Regions from separate parts of the Homo sapiens genome. Here region 1 is linked to region 2. The links come from fine-mapping of genetic effects on gene expression. A gene starts in region 2. The other region holds a variant in brackets. All regions are shown on one strand. Distances are from middle to middle. Region 1 has its middle 38 kb from the start of SCML1. Region 2 holds the start of SCML1 (Scm polycomb group protein like 1).

The links.
Region 1: its variant is fine-mapped to the expression of SCML1 in whole blood (TOPMed, PIP above 0.99).

What each region holds. Positions count from the first base shown.
Region 1 is chrX:17,771,122-17,779,461 of GRCh38, reverse strand. No RefSeq gene overlaps it. Among named protein-coding and RNA genes, the nearest start is that of SCML1, 38 kb to the right of the region's middle. The variant A/C (reference allele first, on the strand shown) is at 3,466.
Region 2 is chrX:17,733,123-17,741,462 of GRCh38, reverse strand. It overlaps SCML1 (Scm polycomb group protein like 1), which reads right to left and starts at 3,970. Exons shown (of 8, transcript NM_001037540.3): 1 at 3,783-3,970. It overlaps NHS (NHS actin remodeling regulator), which reads right to left. Exons shown (of 9, transcript NM_001291867.2): 9 at 5,469-8,340.

The DNA of each region.
Region 1 (8,340 bases), 38 kb before region 2:
TGGTGACACTAATGCTGACTATATATTATAGCTAAACTTCACATACAGGAATAAGATGTACACTCATGTATAGAGAAAGTAAACAGCAAAAACCAATTTTTTAAGAACAAAAGGGGGGAAAAGAAATAAATCTAAATATCCATAACTGCCCCCTAAAGCATATTCAGCAACTCCTTATTCTTCCTTGGAATTGACCTCATTCAGTCACACACAAACACCAAAAGACAAGTGAAAACAAGACCCAGGCACTCCACAACAGAGAAGATCTAAAAATAACTACCAGAGCAGGTTGCGCATATCAAACGTTTCACACACCAAGAAGGAACTTTGCATATTTTCACTTTGAGGAAAGTGTATTCACTCCTTCAAAATCTCACTGGGACTTTCTGCAAAGATTTCCAGAGTTCAGATTTAACAGATTAGGACTTTAATCAAAAACCAGCCATCAAGAATTTCCTGTGCACTTATAAGCAACAGACAGCTTTCCATCAGATTCTATGGTTATTACCAGTGGAGAGAGGAAATCAAAGGGAGGACAACTTGGCAGTGAGATTTGGGGAAAAGAGATTAGTAATCCAACACATTTTTTGTCTTTAGAAACAAGGCAGGAGGCCAGGTGTAGTGGCTCTTTCCCGTAATCCCAGCACTTTGGGAGGCCAAGGCAGGAGGGTCACTTGAGCCTAAGAGTTCAAGACCAGCCTGGGGAACCCAGGCTAGACCCTATCTCTACAAAAAGTACAAAAATTAGCCAGGCATGGTGGCACACACTTGTAGTCTCAGCAACTTGGGAGGCTGAGGGGGGAGGATCACCTGAGCCCAGGGAGGAGGAGGCTGCAGTGAGCTGTGATCGTGCCACTGCAGATCACATTTCTGACCAGTCATTTCTTGTGTACCTGCACTTTTTCTAACGGAAGCATTGCTATTGATTTCACAAGCAGCCAGGCTCACTTATGAAATATGTTGAGACATAAATTAATAAAAGAAGATGCAACATTAAAAAACAGTAATCATCACTCAATAAATACTTCTCAATGATGACACCCATGTGGTACTACAGCCTGTGTGACAGAGCAAAACCCTGAAAAAAAAAAGACAGAAAAAGCAGGAAGTCATTGTTTTAGTTATGTATTGCTGCAGAACAACATTGATTATCTCCCAGTTTCTATGGGTCAGGAGCCCAACCCCAACTTAGACAGGTGGTTCTGGCTCAGGATCTCTCCTGAGGTATCAGTCAAGCTGGTTGAGATCTCATCTGAAAGTTCAGTGGGTGATGGGGTAGGAATCCACTTCCAAGCTCACCTGCAAAGTTGCAGGCCAACCTTGGACCTTGCATGTGCAACTCTTGGGATGCCACATGACATGGCAGCTGACTTCCTCTAGAGCAAGCTATTTGAAAAAATGTCTAAGACAGAGCCCATAGCATTTAAAATCTAATTGCAGAATTGACATCTCATCACGTCTGTCCTTAAGGGGATTCAGTAAGTCCAAGTTACACTGAATGGGAGAGGATTGCACAAGGGTACAGAAACCAGGGAGCAGGGATCATTGGAGGTATCTTTAGTATACAAGAGAAAAGAGCTGCTTTATCTATTTCAAATGGTTTTGAGGTGAGAGGAAGGTCTGTGTTCAGAAAATCGAAACAGTATAAAGATAAGTTGGCTGGCACAAAGTGTGTGGGTCAGAATAAGTAGGAAATGAGTTTAGCCAGGTAGGAAAGAGTCATATTAGAGATCTGAGGGACACTATTATGATTATGTATTCAGGTTACATAAAAGTTATTTTAGATTCATGGCGCATAACAACCTGGAGAAGATAGCCATTATTGACCCTAAATGTGGGTAGCTAATGTCTGTAAAATGATGCAGCAAGAGATGAAGACAAAAGGGATGGACAGAATCAGCTGTGTTTTGGAGAAGGAGGCAACAGAATCTGATGACTGACTCTATGTGTGAGTGTGTGTGTGTGTATGAGAGAGAGAGAGAGAAAGAGCGAGAGAGAGATTAGACACCTACTTTCCAAGGGGGCTGCAATAAATATCATCCCTCTTTTCTTTGCCCCCCAGGTCCTAAAAAGTTGAGAAATAAAAGAGTAAAGATGGAGGCTAAAATATCATCTTTCTCCCACTAGAGGATGCAGTTGAACATGAGAGTGCAAGAGGTCTGCAAGAGGATTCCGGTATTAGCCAGGCTCACCCACCCAGAAACCCCAGAAGCAGAAGATGGACCTGGACAGATTATTGCCTAATCTACTGTTCCCAAATTTACTGATCAGAAAAAAATCCCATCCATTTCCCCAGGAATGGAGTGAGCAAAATGGAGAAAGAGTCCAATAATTCAGCTGTTTTCACAGTCAGTAAAAAGTGATACTCTAACCCAGGACACTATGTGAACATAGTCCATACCAATGTATGAGATCCTCCCAGCCTCACTTTATAGATAGAGAAACAGACACCCAGAACCCATAGCTAGTGACTCCAACACCCAAGCTCAAAAGAATTTGAAGAAGGAATTGAAAGTCTTCCTTAATAGTAAGGCTTCCTGGGGCTGCAGTTTCACTGCGTGTGGTGGGGTGAGCTGTGGCCAGGCTGTAGAAAAGGAAGCAGTGGGGCCTGGGTGTGGGAAAGGCAAGAAGGCAAGCAGGGACAGGGTGGGCACCCTTTGGGACAAGATGCTTTCCCATCTTGATCTCTCTGAACTGTCACAACCCTTGGGGGAGGGGTGATCCTCGTTGGACCAAGCAGAAAACAGACTCGGATTGCCTGAGCCCTGTGACAAAGCCACACAGGCAGAGGTGGTAGAGGAGGGGGGCCCAGCCCTGAGTGCTTTGGGCAGGTCTTTCCCTCTCCAACCCTTTTCCGAAAGGCTCTGAGGCTCTTGGACAGAGGAGGGTCCCCGAAAGGAGAGGCATGGAAAGCGCCATGGAGGGGCCTCCGTGGACAGGGCCAAGCCAGCGGGAGCCAGTCCTGAGAACAGGCGGCGCCCATGGGCCCTCCGCAGGCCCCCAGCAGGAACTGGTAGACCGTCTGCGTGCACTGGAATTTCTGACTTGGTGTGGGTTTGGTGACCCGCGCACGTGTTGGTACGGGAGTCTGTGTGTTGCCTTCACCCAAGGGGCACCCTGTCCTGGACTCCCGCCTCCCTGGCTTCCAGTGCTGGGCCTCTGCTCTCTGTGGCCCCCTGACCCTGGCACCCCCCGTGGACAGCTTGAGAAGCCTCTGCACCTCCCCTCCAGGCTCCACGACTCCTCCCCCTGCAAAATGACGCCAACTGCTGTTGGACCCCGGCCCCGTGGCCCAAGGGCTATCTCTGATGGTCTCCATTTTCACTGCCCTCTCCAGCCCCGCCGCTGCACCAGGAGATCAAGCTCCCCAGCCCTCTCACTGAGCCCCCGGCCATCACCCGCGAATCCCACCTGAGCAGTCCTCCTGCCTCTCAACCTGCCTCGGGGCACGGTGTCCTCTAAACA[A/C]CCCCCTTCCAACCTGAGCTCTTCGCGCCTCTCTTACGTGTAGACAGCGGCTCCTGGTGCCTGAAGCCAAGCCCTGTCTACAGGCCAGGAGCCCCAGCTCCCACCCCCGATGGCAACACGACAGCAGGACCAGCCCACCACGAAGGACAGCCAAGCCCCTGGCCCGAGGCTTGCCTCACACGCTTGCGGCCGCATGTTTTCTTCTCCAGCCACTCAAATTCTCACGTTTCTTTTCCTCCCTGAACCCACCCCCCAGTCCCTCCTTCCACCACCTTCCGCCTCGTGGGTCCTGCAAGCGCAGTTAGCCACAGCCGACCACCGGCTTTCTGCAGTCCAAATCCACTGGCTCCTCCCAGCTTTCCTCTGCCTTGGGGTCCCGTGAATTTCAGCGTGCATGGCCACTCCTGCTGAGCTGTGTCTTGACTCCTAGAATTCACTTCTTCATTGAACACATCCTCACTGAGCACCTCCAGGGCGCCATGCACAATCGTGAGGCGGGGACAGAGAGAGGCGGGGACAGAGCGGGCAGCCGCACACACCAGGCAGCCGCACACACCAGGCCTTGACCTTGACCTTCTGGTCAGCAAGGGGAGGGAAAACAGAAATGAACAAAATTCTTTCCGAAGGCGTGTGAAAGGGGATGACAAGGAAGGGAGGACGTGCCAAGAAGGACAGTCACAGAAGACTTCTCTGAGAGGCCACATTGGAACTGAGACATGAATTGTTCAAAGAGGAAGAAGCCCCAACACCTGGGAACAGAGAAACCCAGGAAGAGCCACTGCAAGGCGAGGCCTGAATTCAGGAGGAAGCTGGACATGCGGAAGCCTTGGAGAAATGGCCAGGGCAGCTTCACAAGAGTGGCCGAGAGGAGAAGGATGGGTCGAATATTCAGTAAGGGTCAGAATCAAGTAAGACAACGAGAGAAGGGAAGGAAACACATCACGGGTAGATATGGACCCTACTAAAACAGAAAGACACGGACAGGAGCAGAAGAGGTGTGAGGATGGAGCACAGAAAGACAGAAGAGAAGGGGGGTGGGGGGGCAGATCCTGTGTGAGTACCAATGAAAGGAAGACAGGAAGAGATGGTCAGAGCCACATCATGTGTGGGTACGAATGTCAGAAAGACAGTAAGACATGGGCAGAGGCAGATCATGTGTGGGTATGAATGTCAGGAAGACAATAGGATTGGAAGAAGCAAATCATGTGTGGGTATGAAGGTCAGGAAGACAGTAAGAGATAGGCAGAAACAGATTATGTGTGGTATGAATGTCAGGAAGACAGTAAGAGATGGACAGTAAAAATATGTGTGGGTAGGAATTTCAGGAAGACAGTAAGACATGGACAGACAAAGATCATGTGTGGGCATAAATGTTAGGAACACAGTAAGAGATGAGGAGATGGAGATCATATGTGAGTATGAATGTCAGGAAGACAGAAAGAGATGGGAAGAGGCAGATCAAGTGAGTATGAATGTCAGGTGGGCAGTAAGAGATGGGAGAAGGCAGCTCATGTGTGGGTATGAATGTCAAGAATACAGTAAGAAATGGACAGAGTCAAAACATGTCTGGCTATGAATGTCAGGAAGTCAGTAAGAGATGAACTGAGGCAGATCATGTGTGGGTATGAATGTCAGGCAGACAGCAAAGAATGAACAGAGGGATATCATGTATAAGGATGAATGTCAGGAAGACAGTAAAAGATGGGTAAAGGCAAATCATCTGCGGGGATATATGTCAAGAAGACAGGAAGAGATGGGCAGAGGATGATCATGTGTAAGTATGAATGGCAGGAAGACAGCAAAAGATGGATAGAGGCACACCATGTGTGCATATGAATGTCAAGAAGACAGTATAAGATGGACAGATGCAGATCATGTGTGAGCATGAATATCAGGAAGGCAGTAAGAGCAGAACAGCCTCAAAGCATGTGTTGCTATGAATGTCAGAAAAGCAGTAATAGATGTGTAGAGGCAGAGCATGTGTGGGGATGCATGTAAGGAAGGCAGTAATAGGTGGGCAGAGCAGATAATGTGTTGTTATGAGTATCAGGAAGAGAGTAAGATATGGACAGATGCAGATTACGGGTGGGTATGAAGGAAAATAAGACAGTAAGTGAAGGGCAGGGGCAGACGTGTGTGCGTGAATGTCAGAAAGACAGTAAGCGATGGGAAGAGCAGATCATATGTGAGTATATATGTCAAGAAGACAGTAAGAAATGGGTGGAGGCAGATCATGTGTGGTATGCAAGTCAGGAAGCAGTAAGCGATGGGTAGAGGCAGATCATGTGTGGTATCAATGTGAGAAAGGAAGTGATGGGCAGAGCAGATCATATGTGAGTATATATGTCAGGAAGACAGTAAGAGATGGGTAGAGGCAGATCATGTGTGATATCAATGTCAGGAAGACAGGAAGAGATGGGTAGAGCAGATCATGTGTGGGTATGAATGTCAAAAATATGGTAATAGATGGGCAGAGACAGATCATGCATGGGTATGAATGTCAGGAAGACTGTAAGAGATGGGCAGAGGCAGATCGTGTGTGGTGTCAATGTTAGGAAGGAAGGAAGTGGTGGGCAGAGAAGATCATATGTGAGTATATGTGTCAGGAAGACAGTAAGAGACCGGTAAATGCAGATTATGTGTGGTCTGAATGTCACAAAGACAGTAAGAGATGGGCAGTGGCATATCACGTGTGGTCTGAATGTCATGAAAATAGAGATGGGCAGAGACAGATCACGTGTGGGTATGAATGACACAAAAACAGTAAGAGATGGCCAGAGACAGATCATGTGTGGGTATGAATGTCAGGAAGAAAGTAAGAGATAGAGGCAGATAATGTGTGGTATCAATGACAGGAAGACAGGAAGAGATGGGCACAGCAGATCATGCGTGGGTATGAGTGTCAGAAAGATGGTAATAAATGGACAGAGACAGATCATGCGTAGTTATGAATGTCAGGAAGACAGTAAAGAATTTGCAAAGGCAGGTCATGTATATTTATGAATGTCAGAAAGACCATAAGAGCTGGGCAGAAGCAGATTATGTGTGTGTATGAGTGTCAGGAGGACAGCAAGGGATGGCAAGATACAGGTCATGTGTGGTATGAATGTCAGAAAACCAGAGAGAGATAGGCAGAGGCAGATCATGTGTGGTATGGATGTCAGGAAGACAGGAAGAGATGGGCAAAACATCATGTGGGCATATGAATGTCAGAAAGAAGGTAAGAGATGGGCAGAGGCACATCCTGTGTGAATATGAATGTCAGGAAGACAATAAGACATGGGCAGAGGCAGATCATGTGTGGTATGAAAGTCAGAAAGAGACTAAGAGATGGGCAGAGCAGATCGTGTGTGTGTATGAATGTAAAAAAAGACAGGAAGAGATGGGCAGGGGCATGTCATGTGTAGCATGAATGTCAGAAAGAAAGTAAGACACCGCCACAGGCAGACCATGTGTGATATGAATTTCAGGAAGACAGTAAGCGATGGGCAGGGGCAGATCTTGTGTGGTTATGAATGTCAGGAAGACAATAAAACATGGGCAGAGGCAGATCGTGTGTGAGTATTAGTGTCAAAAAGACAGTGACAGATGGGTACAGGCAGATCATGTGTGGCATGAGTGTCAGGAAGACAGTAAGAAATGGGCAGAGGCAGATCATGTGTGGGTATGAAAGTCGGGAAGACAATAAGAGGTGGGCACAGGAAGATCATGTGTGGTATGAATGTCAGGAAGACAGGAAGCGATGGGCAGAGCAGATAATGAGTGGGTATGAATCTCAGGAAAACAGTAAGACATGGAGAGTGGCAAATCATCTTTGGATGTGAATGTCAGGAAGACAGTAAGGCATGGACAGAGACAGATCATGTGTGAGTATGAGTCTCACAAAACCGGTTAGAGATGGGCAGAGGCAGGTCATGTGTGGTATGAATGTCAGGATGACAGTAACAGATGGGCAGAGGCAGATCAATGTGGTATCAATGTCAGGGAGCAAGTAAGTGGTGGGTAGAGCAGATCATGTGTGGTTATGAATGTCAATTATGCAGAAAGGCATTGGCAGAGGTAGATCATGTGTTGGTGTGAATGTCAAAAAGACAGTAAGATATGGGCAGAGGCAGATCAGGTGTGGTATGAATGTCAGGACGACAGTAAAAGATAAGCCTAGCACGTCACGTGTGGTGTGAATGTCAGGAAGATAGTAAGAAGTGGAGAGGCAGATCACCTTTGGTATGAAGGTCAGGATGACAGTAAGAGTAGGACAAGACATATCATGTGTGGCTGTGAATGTCAGGAAAACAGAGATGGGCAGAGGCGGGTCACATGTAGGAATGAATATCAGAAGGGCAGTAAGAGATGGGTAGAGGCAGATAATGTGTGGCTATGAACGTCAGGACAGTAAGAGATAAGCAGACGTAGATCAGGTGTAGATGGGCAGAGGCAGATAATGTGTGGCTATGAACATCAGGACAGTAAGAGATAAGCAGAGGTAGATCAGGTGTGGCAAGAGCCTCAGGAAGACAGTAAAAGATATGCCTGGCACATTATGTGTGATATGAATGATAACAGTAAAAGATGAGCAGAGGCAGATAAAGTGTGAGTATGAATGTCAGGAAGACAGAGATGGTCAGAGGCAGATAATGTGTATTATGAATGTCAGGAAGACATAAGAGATGGGCAAAGGCAGATCACGTGTGAGTATGAAAGAAACAAACAAGAATGGAATGGGCATAGCCCCTTCTTGTGTAGGTAGGAATCTTAGGAAGACAGTAGGAAATCAGCAGTGCCAGGCAATAAGTGGGTGTGCGTTTCAGGAAGACAGAATTTGTAGCGAAGAACCAGATCTTTTGTGGGAATGGGTCACAGGAAGACAAAGTGAAG
Region 2 (8,340 bases):
TCCATAATCAGGACCCCGCCCACTGCGCAGAGGTCACTTCTTACCACTTGCCCCTTTACTCTAAGCCAGGGGTCCCCAACCCCTGGGCAACCGCCTGGTACTGGTCCTTGGCCTGTTAGGAGCACAGCAGGAGCTAGCAAGGATTATCGCCTGAGCTCCGCCTCCTGTCAGATGAGCTGCAGTATTAGATTCGCACAGGAGCACAAACCCTATTGTGAACTGCACATGCGAGGGATCTAGGTTGCACTCTCCTTATGAAACAGTTTCATTAGGAAACTATACCCCGCTAGCACTCCCCCGTCCCTGCATCTGTGGAAAAATTGTCTTCCACAAAACCAAAACCGGTTCCTGGTGCCAAAAAGACTGGGGACAGCAGTTCTAAGCCTAAAATATTTACTGTGTAGCCTGTTTCAGGCAAGTTTGCAGACAATGGTTACAAGCTCTTACATCCAGAGAACAGAGAACTCCCTATTTGGATTAATAACAATGTTGTCAAAATTTGGCTGTAGTTAGACACAGGAGCACTGTGCAGTGAGTCCACCACTGGACTCCCAACATGTTTACATCTCTGGTACATATACAAATCAACACCAATCTTTCACTCTTTGAGCTTCTCGCTCCTGTTATGCCCTCCGTCCATAATACCCTGTTGTGTCTCCGCCTAGGAGAATCTATTCAACTTCAAGGCTTACTTCAAGTTTCACCTCCAAAAAGCAAGGGCACCATGCCAATGATCATCCCATGTGGATGTGACACGGCTTTCCCTGAACTACAATAACACTCACACTTTAATACTTCTACGGCAACTGTCACACATATCTGGTTACATGAGAGGCAGCATCAAACAGCATTAAGACCTTAGGCTTGTGGTCAGAATACCTGGGTTTGGGTCCCACCTCCCCCACATACTAGCTGTGTAAGTAAGTTGAACAACTTACTTAAATCCTTTTTTTTTTTTGTCTGTAAAATGGGAATGATAATAGCACATACCTCACGGAATCGTGAGGATTAAATTAATACATGTCAAGTGCTTAGAGTAATGCATGGCAAAGATAGCAAGGGCTTTTGAGTATTGACCGCATCTATCCAACAGAACTATTTCTCAAGGAGCACATAGACAACAAGCCTGGGTCATAACGTCATTTTCATTCACATTGCACCTGAAGTGAGTTTTTATGTCTTTTAGGTACCAGGGTATGATGCAAGGAGCTGGGCTTTAGTTATAAACACTTGAATCCAAGTCCAAATTGCCAAATTTGCCGTTTCACTTTAGGCAAATATTTCACCTCTCTGTGCCTCAAATTTTCTAACCTGTAAAGTTGGAATAATATCTACTTCACAGGGCTATTTAGGCCAAAAATTACACAGTTAAACTCTCAGCATCATGCCTGGTTCATAGTAGACACACCATAAATTTTAATTCCTTTTCACTTCTTCCCATAAGGCAAACAATTACAGCTTTACAACATTGCCTTAGAGCCCAACCATGACTAGAATGTGCAAAATTAATTTCATTTTTAAATCTCAAATCCCACAAAATGAGTTTACTTAAAATGAAACTCATTTATATTTACCACAGAAATCTAAATTTCTTTTTTTTTTTTTTTTTTTTTTGAGACAGAGTCTTACTCTGTCACCCAGGCTGGAGTGCAGTGGCATGATCTCGGCTTACTGCAACCTCTGCCTCCCGGGTTAAAGCAATTCTCCTCCCTCAGCCTCCCGAGTAGTTAGCGTAACAGGCTTGCACCACCATGCCCAGTTAATTTTTGTACTTTTAGTAAAGACTGGGTTTCACCATGTTGGCCAGGCTGGTCCCGAACTTCTGACCTCAAGTGATCTGCCCACCTCGGCCTCCCAAAGTGCTGGGATTACAGGTGTGAGCCACCGCGCCTGGCCAATTCTTGATAACACCATAAATTTAAGTTCCTTTTCACTTTTTCCCACAAGATAAATTACAGCTTTACAACATTTTCTCAGAGCCCAACCATGACTAGATTCTACAAAATTAATTTCACTTTTAAACCTCAAATTCCACAAAAATGAGTTTAAAGGAAACTCATTTATATTTACCCCGGAAATCTAAACTCTTGATAATACCACACATTTTAGTTTCTTCTCACTTCTTCCCACAAGATAAATAATTTCAGCTTTACAACATTTTCTCAGAGCCCAACCATGACTACACTGTGCAAAATGAATTAATTTCACTTTTAAATCTCAAATCCCGTAAAAATGAGTTTACTTAAAATGAAACTCACTTGCATTTACCACAGAAATTTAAACTCTTAATTACACCATATACCTTAATTCCTTTTCACTTCTTTCCATAAGATAAATCACAACTTTACAACATTTTCTGAGCCCAACCATGACTAGATTGTGCGAAATTAATTAATTTCACTTTTAAATCTCAAATCCCATAAAAATGAGTTTACTTAAAATGAAACTCACTTGTATTTACCACAGAAATTTAAACTATTCATTACACCATACACTTTAGTTCCTTTTCACTTCGTCCCACAAGATTAATTACAGCTTTACAACATTTTCTCAGAGCCCAAGGCTAGATTGTGCAAAATTAATTAATTTCACTTTCAAATCTCAAATCTCGTAAAATGAGTTTACTTAAAATGAAACTCACTTATATTTACCACAGAAATCTAAACTCTTGATAACATAAGAACAAGAGGCCGTCTGATTTTCTAAAAGACTTTTTTTAGACATTAAAGACATTTTCAAAAGTCGTAAATATTCGCTCCGGAGGCGCAAGGCTTTCACCTGCCATTAATTCATCAGATAAGGCACAGCTCACAATGAGGCGCCACTCCCACCGGGACCACTTTGAGGAACACACAGCAAAACGCTCTGTTTGTTTTAAGAACAATCACTTTCTAAACCTTCCTGCGGGACTCTCAAAGGCAGCCCTTCCTTTGCCGCCAGAACCGCATCCCATCGCCCAGCACTTGCCGCAGGCCGGACAAGTGAGGCCCAAAAGGGCACCCAGCCCACGCCCCGCTTTAGAAAACACCGCGCGGCAAAGCTGCTTGGAAAATCGCTATCTTTTAGTCAACCTGAAGCCAGTTTGCCGCACTCGGGGAGAGCCGGGGAGAGGAGGGAGGGACGCGATCCGCCACCAACCAAATCAGGGCCTTTCCTGTTAACGACCACGCGGCAAGGGGGCCGGGCCCTCGCACGCCTCGACGGCCTCCCCCACTCCAAAGGGACTCCGATTTCGCAGGATCTCCCGCCTCCCGCCTCTGCTCCCAACACCCTACGTTTTTCTCTTCCTCCTCATTTACGTATTTACAATAAAACAGCGAAGCTGCACAGTCTGTCTCTAAATCAAACGCGGTTACCATCAAAGCCTCAGACTCTATGTCTCAACCGCAAAAGGTCTGACAGGAAATCAACTCGGGAGTTTGTCAATTCTTTAAACTCAAAGCTCTGTTAACGAAATCTGGATCCTTCCTCGCTCCCCACCTGCCTCCCCTGACAGGAGAATGACTGTAAAAGGATCCTGTCGTCCCCGAAAGTCAGCACCAAGCACTTCACAAATTGTCAAATCTCAAAAGCTTACACGCGCGGGCACTCCGGAAAGGCTGTGGGGACCACCCAAAGCACCCCCCTCCACACCGCGGCTGAAATTGGAGGCTGCGAAGTCAAGACTCGCTCTTCCCCGCAAAGCAAACCCTCTCTCCTCAGGAGAGCCCCGGCCCCTAAGCCAAATCGTGTATTCCCGTGACGGAAAGTTCAAGGTGAGGAAAAAGTACGACTGGACAGACCTATTTTAGTGACAGAGCCTGTCACGCCGGCCTCCGGAGGTCGCGGTAAAACTGCTCGCAGTAGTCCTGCCTCTCCGATGGGCGACAGCTGTGACCGTTAGGCCACTCGACGCTTCGGAAAGGTCCTGGCACCGGAAACCGGGCCTGGTCACGCGCACGCGAGACCAGTGATGCCCTGACCCCTGAGTGGATCAGAGAGCTCCCGCGACGCCGAATTCCCACACTCGCGGTTGGGGGGGGGGGGGGGGGGGGGGGGGGCGGGACTACCCGCTGACCAATCGGAGTCTGGCCACTGACAGGCGTCACCGTTGATCGGCCAATCCGCGGGTGCTCTCCCAGTCCTTGGGTGAGGGCGGGAATTTGCTAAGGAGATGGCTGTGGGGCGGGGCCGAGGGCGGGAATTTGCTGAGGAGATAGCTGTGGGGCGGGGCCGAGGGCGGGAATTTGCTGAGGAGATGGCTGTGGGGCGGGGCCTCTTACCTCAGGTTTTCCTTCGCAAGACCCGCAGGATTGAAAATGGACGTTAGGCCTTTCAGAGACTCGCGCGCTGAGTGGTTTCTGCGGCTGCGCAGGAGGCTGGCGCGCATGCGCAACCCTTCTAGTGGCGTTGTAGTTAGGGACGTGGTGTCCCCCCTTCGTTGTTGGGGTGTCCGAAGCTTTTTTTTTTTTTTAATGTGATCCCGCCCCTCCCCCGCGCTCTGTGACGCACCAGAGACGTCGTCGTAAACTGGGTTTCCTGGACGCACGCCAGTGATTGACTTGGAATGAGGAGAGGGGCGGGGCCTTAGCAGTTGCCCTGAGCCAGGTCTGGTAGGAAGGGCGAGGGGGGCCAGGGTGGGGGGCGGGCAAGATATTTCCAGTCTCCAGCACCCACAAGTTGGACTGGGGAACTAACGCAGACCTTGAAGGCAGATTTACTGGATTGGACCCCCAGCTCCAACACAGTCCTCCTATGGCCTTAGGCAAGCCAAGTAACCGCTTTGTGCTTCGGTTTCCCCATCTGTAAAATGGGTATAATATGGGGACTACATGAGTTAATGTATGCAAAGCACTTAGAACAGTACCTGGCATAGAATTTTGCTATTGTAATAAAGGCTATGTGACATCATCTAGTGGCATATAGTCTTACATACTTATATCGAGGCTGCTCATCTTGGGAAGGAGACACAGTCTGAGTAATTATCAGAAGCAAAGCAGGCAGATATTTCAAAGTAAAGCTATACATCTTTTCTTGGCCCAGAGAGGAGCTACAAAGAAAGTATACTGGACGTTGGAAATGTATCATTTTTCCTCTCAAATACGAAGCTAGATTAAAGCCCATTATAGATATAGTATATGTTTTTTTTTTGTTTTTGTTTTTGTTTGAGACGGAGTTTTGCTCTTGTTGCCCAGGCTGGAGTGTAGCGGTGTGATCTCGGCTCACTGCAACCTCTGCCTCCTGGGTTCAAGCGATTCTCCTGCCTCAGCCTCCAGAGTAGCTGGGATTACAGGCGTCTGCCACCATGCCCAGCTAATTTTTGTATTTTTAGTAGAGACGGGTTTCACCATGTTGGACAGGCTGGTCTATGTTCTTTTTGCTCCTACTTTTGCCATAACAGACCCTGCCCTTATGTCCTGTTGCCTGTAAAACACTGTTGCGAAGCCCCAAGAAATCAATTACGTAACAGTGAAGAGAGAAACCGGTTGTTTAATTGCAGTCACGTTTATTTGCAGTTTCTATACACACTTTCTAGGTAATCAAACTTTTCTGATACATTTTTTTTGAGAGGGGTTCACAATGAAACTGTCACCATTTTTACTAAAAATAAATACAAGACTTAAAGTGTTGCACAGCTCTAAAATATACAAAGGCTTGGATTGAATGTAAACGTTGAAAACATCTTACAAAAGAAACCATCTTTGCAGCAATTTAAAAAGTTCATATTTACAAATATTACAAAAATACAAAATGGATGCAAGTCCATAAACCATTGTCGTTTCGGCCAGCATGAACTGGTTCTAGTACCAAAATAGTTACACTGTAACCTTCTTCATAGTTTTAAATCTTTATTACCATCTAGTTCTCTACGTGCCACCACTGCAGCAAATGCACTCACTCACTGACCTTTGGCAAGAGCAAACAGCATGTTCTGTTTGCTACAACTAGTCCATGTCCTCTACTTAGCCAAAAACAAATCAAAACAACAACAAAACCAAAGTAGAATTTTTAAAAAATGAAAAAATTTCCCCTACACAACATAGATACGTTGTATAAACATAAAAGAACAAAAAATCGCATCAGTGCAAACAACAGAAGAAAAGTTCGGATTGATGTTCTTCACAATACCTAACGTGTGTACCCTGCTTCAAGACGGCAGTGATGTTAAAGACAGCCCTAAATCTTGGTCTTGTTTGCTATGTAATCAAGCCATGTAGAATATTCCAGATTATTAGGGAACTTCCTGCTTTTTCTTCTCAGTTTGTAACTCAATACTCTTTTCCACAGTGAATTTTAAATCCATCTTTATTTGGGTTTTTTAAATCTATGAAATATAAAATAGAGAAACTCTGCTATAGATTTTTAGAGTAAACAAAATAAGTAAAACTATATTATAAGGGTTAGTTCTGTGATCATTACATATAGAAGGTATCTTATTGCCTCACAATTCAAGTCAATATGTATTTTAAAAAATATATGGTACCATTACTTAATGTCAATAATAAAAAGGTGACATTTTTATTAAAGCCAATTCATGTGTTTTCTATTCAAGATTTAGAATCACTTTTAAAGCCCACATACCTTTCTTCACACTTAAAAAACCCCTAACTACACAAAAGCCATACTGCAAACGAACTGCTTTTATGAAATTACGAAAGATCGCCTACTGTGACTGGAAATGACGGTTTCTTATCGCATTTGCCTAAAAACTTTATTTTTAAAACTTTGCAAGGTGTACTTTTCAAATCATGAGACAGATTTATTCATGTTCCCATGTGGTGTCAAACCATGCTGGTTTTCTTAATTAATGGGTTCCAATGAGAAATGGTGGTCCATTTTATTCAAACCCCAAAATATTTTTCTTTTAAGAAAAAGTGTGACATTTTGTAAATGTTCAAACCCTTTACCAGGTAGCTTATCTATCCCCAGTGTGTGTGCGTACACACACACTCACACTCACACACACCCATACACACTCTCTCTGACTCTCCCTCCTCTTATACCCCTCCACCCCCAGCACCCATTTTACATACAAGGATGACAAGAAATTTAGTAACACAGTTTGGTAGTGAAAACAAATAGTAGAAGAAGCCAGACATTTTTTTTCTTTCCAAACAAACAAAACAACAGCAATCAGATTATCTATTCTTAATCTGTAGCAGTTTAGAAATCATTTCTATTGAAAGACAGTATCTTCTTAGACCAGGCTTCCTCCTTCATTTTGCATGAATTAATCCAAAATGCAAACCCTCTTCCACACCTCCTACTTTCCCAACTACCACTTGCATAAGCTTAAAGCCAGCAGCTTGTCAATTTCTTGGTAACATTGGTATGTTCTATCACTCTAATCACATTCTAGTCTTTTATAAGTCAGATCCCTTCTTAATTCTCTCTCTGTTCTACCTCTCCCATTCAAAACCTATTCTAAGTACATAGCTGCTTATATTTCTGACATAAGATTCCAAACATTAGTATAAGTTCATGTTAAAATCAGAGGTGTAAAAACCATTTGCAGATTTTAACGTGTAACTACATTTTTTTTTCAGTTTTAAGACAAGAAAATTCAAGTAATTTCAAGTAATTCAGCTTGTTTCCCTGCCTTTATTTTATCAGAGCACATGCCCTGACATTTCCTCTCCCACCCTCCACCCTCCCCTTTTGCCATCAAGCAGACACTATAGTAAAACCAGACAAAAACTCAGTTGTATGTAGTATTGTGAACCAGAGCTGTTCCCCATTCCCAGTTTAACAATGAGTATAAATAATGCATATACACATACCTATTTTCCAACTACATTGTTCACAGTGTCATTTCTGTTAATTTTTAGGTAGCATGAATCTCATCAGCACAGAGAGAAAGCTTCACTGAAAACTCATTACAGGTACTTACTGATTAATCAATAGCTCTGTGGCATGCTTAGGTTTTATTTTTGTTAGTTTAAGAACCTGGAGCTAATTTCTAAACTGTTTAAGGAGTTTAATGATTACAGTCATTAGTTATGACCGTTTATGTCCCCAGTAGCCTAATATAAAACATAACCTAAAATTAACTACTATTTTCCCTACTCATTCTCTTTAAAGCAATCCATTGAAAAAATTAAAATCTAAAGGACACTGTCAAATGCTGTTGTTCAGGGCTTTGTGTTGAGAATGATGACTTCTCTCACTGATTAAAAAAAAAATCAAAAGCATGCTTTTCATTCTGTCCAAATTACCACACAACAAATCACAGCCATGGGTTGCTATTAGTTTGTTTGGTGCTGCAATTTGTCATAAAAATGATTAGATCTGAATTCATTATTTTAATTTATTCATATTTCAGTATATGACCTCAAGATTTCCTTTAGTTCACCAGTTTAA